2 separate regions of the Homo sapiens genome follow, and region 2 is linked to region 1. Evidence: fine-mapped expression QTL. A gene starts in region 1. The other region holds a variant in brackets. All regions are shown on one strand. Distances are between the middles of the regions.

What was found.
Region 2: its variant is fine-mapped to the expression of FCSK in lung (TOPMed, PIP 0.91).

Annotation. Positions count from the first base shown.
Region 1 is chr16:70,452,365-70,457,731 of GRCh38, reverse strand. FCSK (fucose kinase) reads right to left here and starts at 3,137. Exons shown (of 24, transcript NM_145059.3): 1 at 3,102-3,137. It overlaps LOC124903708 (a long non-coding RNA gene), which reads left to right and starts at 3,196. Exons shown (of 2, transcript XR_007065104.1): 1 at 3,196-3,414; 2 at 4,265-4,695.
Region 2 is chr16:70,479,770-70,485,136 of GRCh38, reverse strand. FCSK (fucose kinase) reads right to left here. Exons shown (of 24, transcript NM_145059.3): 24 at 4,863-5,367. It overlaps COG4 (component of oligomeric golgi complex 4), which reads left to right. Exons shown (of 19, transcript NM_015386.3): 14 at 1,168-1,284; 15 at 2,316-2,408; 16 at 2,962-3,045; 17 at 3,272-3,373; 18 at 3,650-3,778; 19 at 3,993-4,566. The coding sequence ends at 4,127. Among named protein-coding and RNA genes, the nearest start is that of FCSK, 28 kb to the right of the region's middle. The variant A/G (reference allele first, on the strand shown) is at 2,562.

The DNA.
Region 1 (5,367 bases):
CACAGTGAATGTGCCTATAGTCACAGCTACTCAGGAGGCTGAGGCGGAAGCATTGTTTCAGCCCTGGGGGCAGAGGTTGCAGTAAACTGGCACCAATACATTCCACCCTGGGTAACAAAGCCAGACCCTGTCTGAGGAAAAAAGAAAGAAAGAAAGAAAGAAAGAAACCCTTGAAATGGCCAGATGTGGTAGCTCACATCCGGAATCCCAGCACTTCGGGAGGCCAAAGTGGGCAGATCACTTGAGTTCAGGAGTTCAAGGCCAGCCTGGCCAACATGCCAAAACCCCATCTCTTTTAAAAGTACAAAAATTAGCCGGGTGTAGTGATGCGCGCTTGTAGTCCCAGCTACTCAGGAGGCTGAGGCAGGAGAATCACTTGAACCCAGGAGACGGAGGCTGCAGTGAGCCAAGATCACGCCACTGCACTCTAGCCTGGGCAACAGAGCGACTCTGTCTCAAGAAAAAAAAGAAATGCCCCAGAGAGTCCAATGGCCCAGAAGTTCTGAGCCCAGTCTTCATCTCAGCATAGTGATAGAGAGACATGGGCAGGTGACAGGTCATGGCCAGAGTGGGGAGAGTATCCCTTACTAATGACAGGGGCAGAGGAACAGTCCTGGGTTGCGTATCAGTCCCAAAAGGCTCTGTCCCCATCTCTACCTCTTCCTGCTTCCTGTAGGATCCTGAGCAAGTTACTTAATCTATTTTTTTTTTTAAGATGGAGTCTCGCTCTGTCACCCAGGCTGGAGTGCAGTGGCGCAATCTTGGCTCACTGCAACCTCCGCCTCCCAGGTTCAAGCCATTCTCCTGCCTCAGCCTCCCGAGTAACTGGGACTACAGGCGCGCACCACCATGCCTGGATAATTTTTTGTATTTTTAGTAGAGACGGGGTTTCACCATGCTGGCCAGGCTGGTCTCAAACTCCTGACCTTGGGATCCGCCTGCCTCGGCCTCCCAAAGTGCTGGGATTACAGGCGTGAGCCACCATGCCCAGCAGTTACTTAACCTCTCTAAGCCTCAGTTTCCTAATCTGAAATTTAAGGCCAAAGACATCAACCTCCCAGGACTGTTTTCAGCATGAAATACAATGTAAAGTATGTGGCACACACCAGTGGCTCAATGAATGATAATCCTTCCAGCCAGGCAAGGAAGCAGGAGAGTTTAACCTGTCCCTGAAGGAGGAAGGACTGGAAGCTCTCAAACATTCTCTGAGTTAAAGACTGTCCTGAAGAAGAAAAAAATCAGGGAAGGCCTCGGGAATCAAGCAAGGCTGAGGGACATCCCCTGAGAGATTAACAAAAAAGGTAAAATGATACAAGTAGCTAATACATATGGAGTGCTTTTTCAGGCACTATGGCAAAGGCACATCAGTGTCACTTCATATGACCCACCCAACAGTCCTAAGAATTGGTTCTTATCTCACTGAAGCTCTAGACAAGAAAACTGTAGTTTAAAAAGCAGAAACATAGCTATTAGGTTGGTGCAAAAGTAATTTTGGCTTTTGCCATTGCTTTAATAGCACAGGCAGGCTAGGCTTTTGTTTTGTTTTGTTTTGTTTTTGAGAAACAGGGTCCGGCTCTGTCACCAGAGGGCGGAACGCAGTGATGTGATCACAGCTCACTGCAGCCTCAAACTCCCGGGCTCCAGCGATCCTCCCATCCCAGCCTCCCAAGTAGCTGGGACTATGCATGAGTCCTGCTAGTTTTTTATTTTTTGTTGAGATGGGGCCTCCCTTTGTTGCCCAGGCTGACCTACAACTCCCGGACTCAAGTAATCCTCCCGCCTTGGCCTTCCTAAGTGTTGGGATTACAGGTGTAAGCCACCATGCCTGGCTTTTTTTTTTTTTGAGACAGTCTCCCTCTGTCGTCAGGCTGGAGTGCAATGGCGCGATCTCGGCTCACTGCAATCTCCGCCTCCCAGGTTAAAGTGATTCTCCTGCCTCAGCCTCCCAAGTAGCTGGGATTACAGACGTGCACCACCACGCCCAGCTAATTTTTGTATTATTAGTAGAGAGGGGGTTTTGCCATGTTGGCCACGCTGGTCTCAAACTCCTGACCATAGGTGATCTACCTGCTTCCGCCTCCCACAGTGCTGGGATTACAGGCGTGAGCCACCTCGCCCGGCCTTTTTTTTTTTTTTAATTAATAGTTTGCTGGAGTTACACAATCTCAAGAGGTCCTGAGAAAGTGTGCCCTAAGGCCCTAAGGTTCTTTTGTTGTTGTTGTTGTTGGTTTGTTTTGTTTTGTTTTTGAGACGTAGTCTCGCTCTGTCGCCCAGGGTGGAGTGCAGTGGCGTGATCTTGGCTCACTGCAACCTCCATCTCCTGAGTTCAAGCGATTCCCTCGCCTCAGCCTCCCAAGTAGCTGGGATTACAGGCATGAGCCTTGGCGCCCAGCCTCTACCCACTTTCAATACAGCCTCATCTGCTGAGATCAAGTTGAAATATTTTTTAGTGTCCTCAGCCCCACGCTGTCCAAGACTGGGATAGGGTTGGGGAGCCAGAGATAGAATAAAGTACTAAGAACTCTTCATATGAACCTTTTGAAGACAGGTGGGTCAGGGACTGCACATTTTAGAACTTTAAAGAGGAAAAAAAGGCTCACGGAGGACTCTGACTTGCTGCCTTCTAAATAACAGACCGAAAGAAGTTACTTGGGAGTAAAATCGTTTTGTAAATTACCCAAGAGCACATCATTGAGATTTGTGCATAATACTGAGCCCTGGCCGGGTAAACTGAGAGAGGAGAAGCGGCCTCAAAGTAAAATCAGAGCAGCGCCGGCATCCAGGGCCCCACCTGCCTCAGGGTGAGGATCCTCTGAGGCCCGCATCCCTCCCGGTCCCAGCTGCCAGCAGGTCCGGCCGCACCAGCCGGGTCGCGGGGCTCCCCTTGGAAGACCCAGGCCAAATGGACGCGGGAGCGTAGAAACACCTGTGGGCTCCCGGGGCACCGCAGAGCTCCCGGGGACTCTTCCCTGTCAGGACCCGGGCGGCCCGCGGGTCGACTCGGTGCTCCCAGTCAGGGAGGGTGCACCGGAAAGCTGAGGGGGCGCAAGGGGCGCAAGGGGCGCAAGGGGCGCTGCGGCGACCCTCGCGGACTGACGTACCTGCCGTCGCCCGGCGCTCGGCGGAGCGGGCTCTTTAACGCGAGGCTGCGCGACCCTCGCGGTGCACTCCGGGAAGTGTAGTTTCACCTCCGCGCCCCCCCAAGGCCGAGCCCCCGTCCGGCAAAAAACACGGTCGGAGCCACCGCATAGGCCAGCGTGGGTGGCCGGGGCAGCGCTTTCCTGAAGGGCAGCGGGGCTGCAATCCAGAAGGGAGATGGGAAGGGGGCCGCTCCAGGACCCACGAAACTACAACTCCCAGAGGACCGAAGCGCCTTAAAGACAGAGGCCCGTTTTCTGGGACTCCGGGATCCAGGTTAATAGGTTAATGTGTAGCTTTTTTGTTTGTTTTCTCGTTTGGGTTTTTTTTTTTTTTTTTTTTTAACACCTTCTGGACGGCACCAGGAGCTTCCGCTTTCCTCTGGAGAAAAATCCACTGATGGAGGAAAAAAAAAAATCACGCTTTGCCCAAGCGGAAGCAGCTGCCATTCGATTTGCAGTTGGAAAGGTTTGCGCTGGTTTCATCACGTGGATCCTTTGGGAAGAAACTTTCCAACTCCGTAATGGGGAGGGGATCTGCGGACCTTTTGGGAAAGTTGTGAATGGCAGCATTGATTGTCATAGATGACAATTGGAAATACTCTGAGTGTCTCTCTCTAGGTTACTATGTGAAAGGAAAATAAATCTCAGGACCCCAAAGTCACTAAGTCAAAGGGAAAAGTCAAGCTGAGAACTGCATCAGGGAAACCTACCTCCCATTTTATTCTTAAACAAGATAACTACAAAGATAAAAAAGCTAGATATGGCCTGGCCCTCACAACTTGCCCACTAGGAAATTCCTTGTGTGCCCCCAAATCTGTACCCTAAAACAGTTGTGTGGAATTTCAGTGACAATGTAAATTTATAGCTTATCTTCACAGGTGCTGGGCTTTGACAGCACTGAAAGTCATCTCTCAGCTCACCTGAGACAAATGCATATCTCATTGCTTCCTCTGCCCTATGTTTATTTTTTCTTATGTAAAAATGCATATTCACTGAGCTAGATGAATGCATAAGTGACTAGTCCTCTATCCCCCTCTAACATGTGAAAGGCTTATCAAAGACTCAGAAGAATGCAGCCATTTGCCTCTTACCTACCCATGCCTTTTAAAAATTTCCTCTTTCAGGCCAGGCACGGTGGCTCGCACCTGTAGTCCCAGCCCTTTGGTGAGGCCGAGGCGGGTGGATCATGAGGTCGGGAGTTGAAGACCAGCCTGGCCAATATGGTGAAACCCCGTCTACTAAAAATACAAAAATTAGCTGAGCGTGGTGGCGCGCACCTGTAGTCCCAGCAGCTTGGGAGGCTGAGGAAGGAGAATCGCTTGAACCCGGGAGGCAGAGGTTGCAGTGAGCTGAGATTGCACCACTGCACTCCAGCCTGGGCAACACAGTGAGGCCCTGTCTAAAAAAAAAAAAAAAATTCCTCTTTCCCCAATATCTGACCTTTCCCCTTTAAATATTGAAGCCCTCAAAATCATCTTTGGAGAAAGGTACAGACCTGTCTCCCAGGTGCACACATTCTTAACTTTGGCAAAATAAACTTGTAAATTGATTGAGACCAGTATCTGGTGCTTTTTGGTTTACAACTGGAAAACTAAACTAGGCACATCCATGCAAGACAGATGCTCTATATGTTCAGTAGGGAGTGATGTTCAGGACATCATGTTAAGGGAAAAGCAGCAAGTTGTAGAGCAATATGTATGGGAAGCCCCTCAAATAAAAAATAATGTTTATGGACAGATAGTGTGTGGATACACAGGAACAGGGCTGGAAGCGAACGCATGCTAGGGAGAGACTGCTAAGCATGGGGACAAGCGGGGAGAACTTGAGCTTTATCTGTATTGTTTGAATTTTTCTTACAAGAATGTACTTTCCAAATCTGTTGTTAATAAGGAGCCTAAAGCTGGGCACAGGTGCTCACGCCTGTAATCCCAACACTTTGGGAGGCCAAGGTGGGAGGATGGCTTGAGCTTGGGAGTTTGAGACCAGCCTGGGCAACATAGCAAGACCCCGTCTCTAAAATATATATAAATTAGGGCCGGACGAAGTGGCTCATGCCTGTAATCCCAGCACTCTGGGAGGCCAAGGCAGGCAGAAAACTCGGGGTCAGGAATTCAAGATGAGCCTGGCCAATTTTTTTGTTATTGTTGTTGTGAGACAGAGTCTCACTCTGTTGCCCAGGCTGGAGTACAGTGGTGTGATCTCGGCTCACTGCAACCTCCGCCTCCCA
Region 2 (5,367 bases), 27 kb before region 1:
TGGCCTCACAAAGTCCTAGGATTACAATAGTGAGCCACCATGCTCAGCCTTTCCTGACTTATTGCCATGGCTTTGAATAAATTATTAACTTCTGTGCCTCAGTTTTCTCATCTGTACAATGGGGATAATAATTTTACCTATTTCATAAAGGAGATACTTTTTTTTATGAAGGTCAAAGTAACTTACAATAGTTGTGGGGGTTTTTTGGTTTTCATTTTGTTTTGTTTTTAAGTAGAATAGGTACTTTGTTCTCACTCTGCTGCCCGGGCTGGAGTGCAGTGGCAGTCATAGCTCTCTGCAACCTTGAACCCTTGGGCTCAAGGGATCCTCTCGCCTCAGCCTCCTGAGTAGCTAGGGATGCAGGGGCGCACCACTACATCCAGCTAATTCTTTAATTTTCTGTGGAGACGGCTTCTCACTATGTTTCCCTGCTGTTCTTAAACTCTGGCCGCAAGTGGTCCTTGCACCTTGGCCTCCCAAAGTGCTAGAATTACCCGCATGAGCCACCTCGCCCAGCCTGGTACTTTAATAAAAGTGAAATGCTTAGAACAAAGCCAGGTATACAGTACGCCCTTAAACCTTAGCTATGATCTTGACCATCCCCTTTGGTAGCCATACCAAAATATTTAAGAAGCAGAAACTGACTTTTGTGGTTTTTTGGTAAATTTAAATAAAATTTAAGAAGAAGTAAATAAATATAAAAGGGGGGGAAAGGAGGAACTATAGCAATAATAGCTAGTGTCTCCTGTGCCAGGCATTGAGCTAGGCACGTTGTGCTTCATCTCATACATGAGGAGCAGGAATTGGTGTTCCCATTTTATAGACAGGAAAATTGAAGCTCAGAAACTTTAAATCATTTGCCCAAGGTCACTCAACTAATACATGACTGAGCCAGGACTTGAACCTAGGAATGTCTGACTCTAAAGACAGGAAAAACTTTCTGGTATTTCTGTTTCTTACTCACTTCCCCGACATTGGTACCCCCATATTACAGAGGGGGAAGTGGGAGCCAAGTGGATAACCACCAGGATAGAATCCAGGTTTTCTGAAACCCATCCGGGCTCTTGACAGGCCATAGCTGGCTGGAGGAGTAGAACTGGCTGGTGGCTCCTCACACTCCCATGGCCCACGCGTGCTCGGTGGTCTTACAGCAGTGTTCTCCCCTAGAGTGACTGCACCAAGCTCTTCAGCCAGGGCATTGGAGGGGAGCAGGCCCAGGCCAAGTTTGACAGCTGCCTTTCTGACTTGGCCGCCGTGTCCAACAAATTCCGAGACCTCTTGCAGGTAAGCCCCAGGTTCAACTGCTGACTGAATCCTGTGCCTGTGTGTTGCTCTGAGAAGATTGTTAGCTGGCTCATCGTGTGCAAGGAAGCCAGGAGGACGGGTGAGGGAGCAGCACGCAAGCCCTGGAGCCTGGAGTTGTGCAGGTCCCTTGAGACTAAAGGCCCTGTTGGTTTCTCAGCAGTGAAGTTGTCACACTGACAAGCCAACATCTGGTGCTCTAGACTTTGCACTTGGCCCCACAATGACAAGAGCTCTCAGAAGATGCTCAGAGGAAGTGGAGCCACATGGTTGTTCTGACCTAGCCGCAGGTGCTGCCTAACATTGAGCATTCTGAAATCTCTTGTGAGAGTTTATCAGAACAGTCTCAAGGCCTCATCGTTACCCTGGACCTGAATCAGCTGAGATCTGGAAAGGGGCATGTTCCTGGCTCCTCCTTTCATTAGCACTAGCTCTGTTATAACCTCCAACAGGGCCTGCAGAAAGCCTCAGGGCTGGAAGAACGCCCTGCAGTCAAGGGATGGGGAGAGGAGAGAGGGAAGGGATGGGGAGAGGAGAGGAGGATGGGGTGGGGAGAGGAGAGAAGGAAGGGATGGGGAGAGGAGAAGGGGATGCGGTGGGGAGAGGAGAGAGGGAAGGGGTGGGGAGATGAGAGGGATGGGGTGGGGAGAGGAGAGAGGGAAGGGGTGGGGAGAGGAGAGAGGGAAGGGGTGGGGAGACGAGAGAGGGATGTGGTGGGGAGAGGAGAGAGGGATGGGGTAGGGAGAAAAGAGGGATGGGGTGGGGAGAAGAGAGGGAAGGAGTGGGGAGAGGAGAGGGAAGGGGTGGGGAGAGGAGAGGGAAGGGGTAGGGAGAGGAGAGGGAAGGGGTGGGGAGAGGAGAGAAGGAAGAAATGGGGAGAGGAGAGAAGGAAGGGATGGGGAGAGGAGAGGAAAGGGATGGGGAGAGGATAGAGGGAAGGGATGGGGAGAAGAGAGAGGGAAGGGATGAGTCGTGCCTTCTGTGTCACATGTCTCCACCTTGTCCTTGTGCAGGAAGGGCTGACGGAGCTCAACAGCACAGCCATCAAGCCACAGGTGCAGCCTTGGATCAACAGCTTTTTCTCCGTCTCCCACAACATCGAGGAGGTTAGCCTGGCCACAGGCAGCCATCAAGCCCCGATGACCCCTCATCCCTAGCCCCAGCTAGAGGGAGCAGAGCCATCTGAACAGACTAGACCTTCCATGCTTCCCAGGCCCACTTCCCCCACCCTGACCCATGAAGACTAGGTTCCTCCCAGG[A/G]AACAGTTTGTCCCTAGTCAGAAGGGCTCAGAAAGACATGGAGTTTGCCTTGACCTAACTTATTCCCTTATTGGAGCTCTTTTTGCCCCGCCTATGATAGACTTAGAAGCGTTTTTTTCCTCCTGGCGTAGTGATTTCATTCCTGTAGAACAAGAGATCCAAGAAGGAATAAAATGCCAGGAACTTTACCATGTTATGTGGGCCACTGCTACAGCCCTGGGCTGTTTGCTGGTCAGTTTCTGCCAGCCTGGGTGTCTGAGCTGGTTTTAAACTAGATGAGTCAGAAGGCACAGGGAAGGAAGAATGTTTTACATTATTTTCTTAGAGGGATAGAGGTGGGTGGCAATGAATGGTACTTCTTATGAGGCCCATGGTGACCAGCCCTGCTTCCTGACAACAGGAAGAATTCAATGACTATGAGGCCAACGACCCTTGGGTACAACAGTTCATCCTTAACCTGGAGCAGCAAATGGCAGAGTTCAAGGTGAGCAGGGGCCCTAGGGATCCACTTAGGGAATTACCCACGTCAGCCCAAACCAGCAGCCTGCAGGGTCTCATCACATTCCTTCTGGGGACCCTGAAAGCCCTTCCAACCCTCACCTGTAGAAACTCCCCCGTGGCCTCACGCTACTATCCTCACCACCTAAGACTCCAGCATAGAGGCAGAGGAGTTAGGTGGGGCTCGGCTGATGTCAACCCTCTGTGTGCAGGCCAGCCTGTCCCCGGTCATCTACGACAGCCTAACCGGCCTCATGACTAGCCTTGTTGCCGTCGAGTTGGAGAAAGTGGTGCTGAAATCCACCTTTAACCGGGTAAGGTAAAGGGGTCATGGGTCTGCGGCTCTCGTTTCTCCTCTGAGGAAGACATGTCATGCCACCACCCCCAGGACTTGCATCCCCTCTGTCTGCTGCCCACAGGCCCTGCATGTCTGGGTCCAGTCCTGCTCTGGCTTCTGAAGCCGTAGAGCAAACAAACCACAGGGCACCACCTGAGGCCTGGCGGGCCTTGCCACCCAGCTCTGGGGGCAACTGGAGGCCAGTTCTGCTTGGCCAGGCCTAAGTAGTGACTGGGCTTGGGTTCTCCTGCAGCTGGGTGGTCTGCAGTTTGACAAGGAGCTGAGGTCGCTCATTGCCTACCTTACCACGGTGACCACCTGGACCATCCGAGACAAGTTTGCCCGGCTCTCCCAGATGGCCACCATCCTCAATCTGGAGCGGGTAGGTGGGGCACCCTTGGCCCAGCCAGGGAGGGGTGACTGAAAGAGGCAAAGATGGATCCCCGCCACTTCCCTCTAAACCATGTCTGCCAGCAGCCAGCTCTATAGGACACCTTCCCCTTCCCGGGTGCCCCTGCTCTGCCCCTGGTAGAGGCCAGAGCCCTCTTTCAGAATAACCCCACCTTGCTGACTGGTCTCTATGTCCTTCCCCACAGGTGACCGAGATCCTCGATTACTGGGGACCCAATTCCGGCCCATTGACGTGGCGCCTCACCCCTGCTGAAGTGCGCCAGGTGCTGGCCCTGCGGATAGACTTCCGCAGTGAAGATATCAAGAGGCTGCGCCTGTAGCTGCCTGGATGAGCACACCTGGCTCATCACACTTGCAGGCCTGTTCCCTAAGGGGCCCCAGCCAAGGAGCTGAGCGAGGCTGTCTGGCTTGGGGGAGATCTGACAGCCCAGACCTTTCTACGGCTGGCAGCAGAGAAACAAAGTCTGGACCCACTCCATGCTCTGCCCTCAGACCTGGCCAGGTGATGCTCTGGGGGCAGCATCTCCCCACCGAGAGAAGCGGGCTCCTAATGAGGTGGGAAAGCCACGGCAGGCAGCGAGCAGCCCAGGCCAGCTTTCTGCATGGATGGTCAGTCTCTTGCCCTCAAACACTACAGCAAACAAGCTACCCCTGCCAGTCCTAGACAACTTGGGTACATCTGGGGACCTAGCAGTTAGGCTTGACTTTGAGGAGAGGCTGTGATGTTTATGATCCCTGAATAAAGCTACTCCTTGGAGAGATGCCAGTGTGCTGTTACCAGGGAGGGCCAGATGCTATGGGGCAGGGCAGGTCTATCAGTTGCACTGAAATAGGAAGGTAAAACCCAAGACCTCAGCCTGCTCCCACACACAGTGCAGCACACAGCTGTGTCCGGGGCCCACATGATGGCAGGAGCCCCCATCCAGTCCCAGACCCTCGTGCCCCTCTTGGGCCCCCAGCACCACAAGCTGGATCACCCCAGGGCCAGTTCCCCATGGTGTAGAGAAGTGGGAACTGCTCCCAGCAGGAGCAAAAGTGACTTTACGAGGACCACCTGCAAGGACAGAGTGAATTTATTCCAAGAATGCCAGTCCTGAGAACCCACTTCCCACAGGCACCAGGTCACTTGGCACGCTCCGTAGTTTTGCTAGTTAAGGCCTGGGATGGCAGTGAATCACTGGGTCACTGCTACCAACTTGGCAAGGGACCGCCACCCTCACTCCCACGCTCACATGAGGGTTGAGTGTAAGTCTACAACTCTAAGCCATAGGGAATGCCTCAAAGGGCCTCTTCAGGGTTGGCCTTGCTAAGGGACTCCCAGCCATATGCCAAGGCTGGCTGTCAACCCTTTCCAGGGCCCTTGTGGAATGAGAAGGCCAGCCATAGGATTTGTAAAGGCCACGTGGGATACTAAGCTTGGGACCTTCCTATGTCCAGGAGGAACAGAGGCTACATCTAGGCCCCTGTCCACCAGGTCACAGTCCTGTCCCAGGCACTCTCTGCTTGCCCAGATCTTGCTCTGGTCAGCTTCCTTTGGGAGCAGATTCGCAGAGGTGGGTG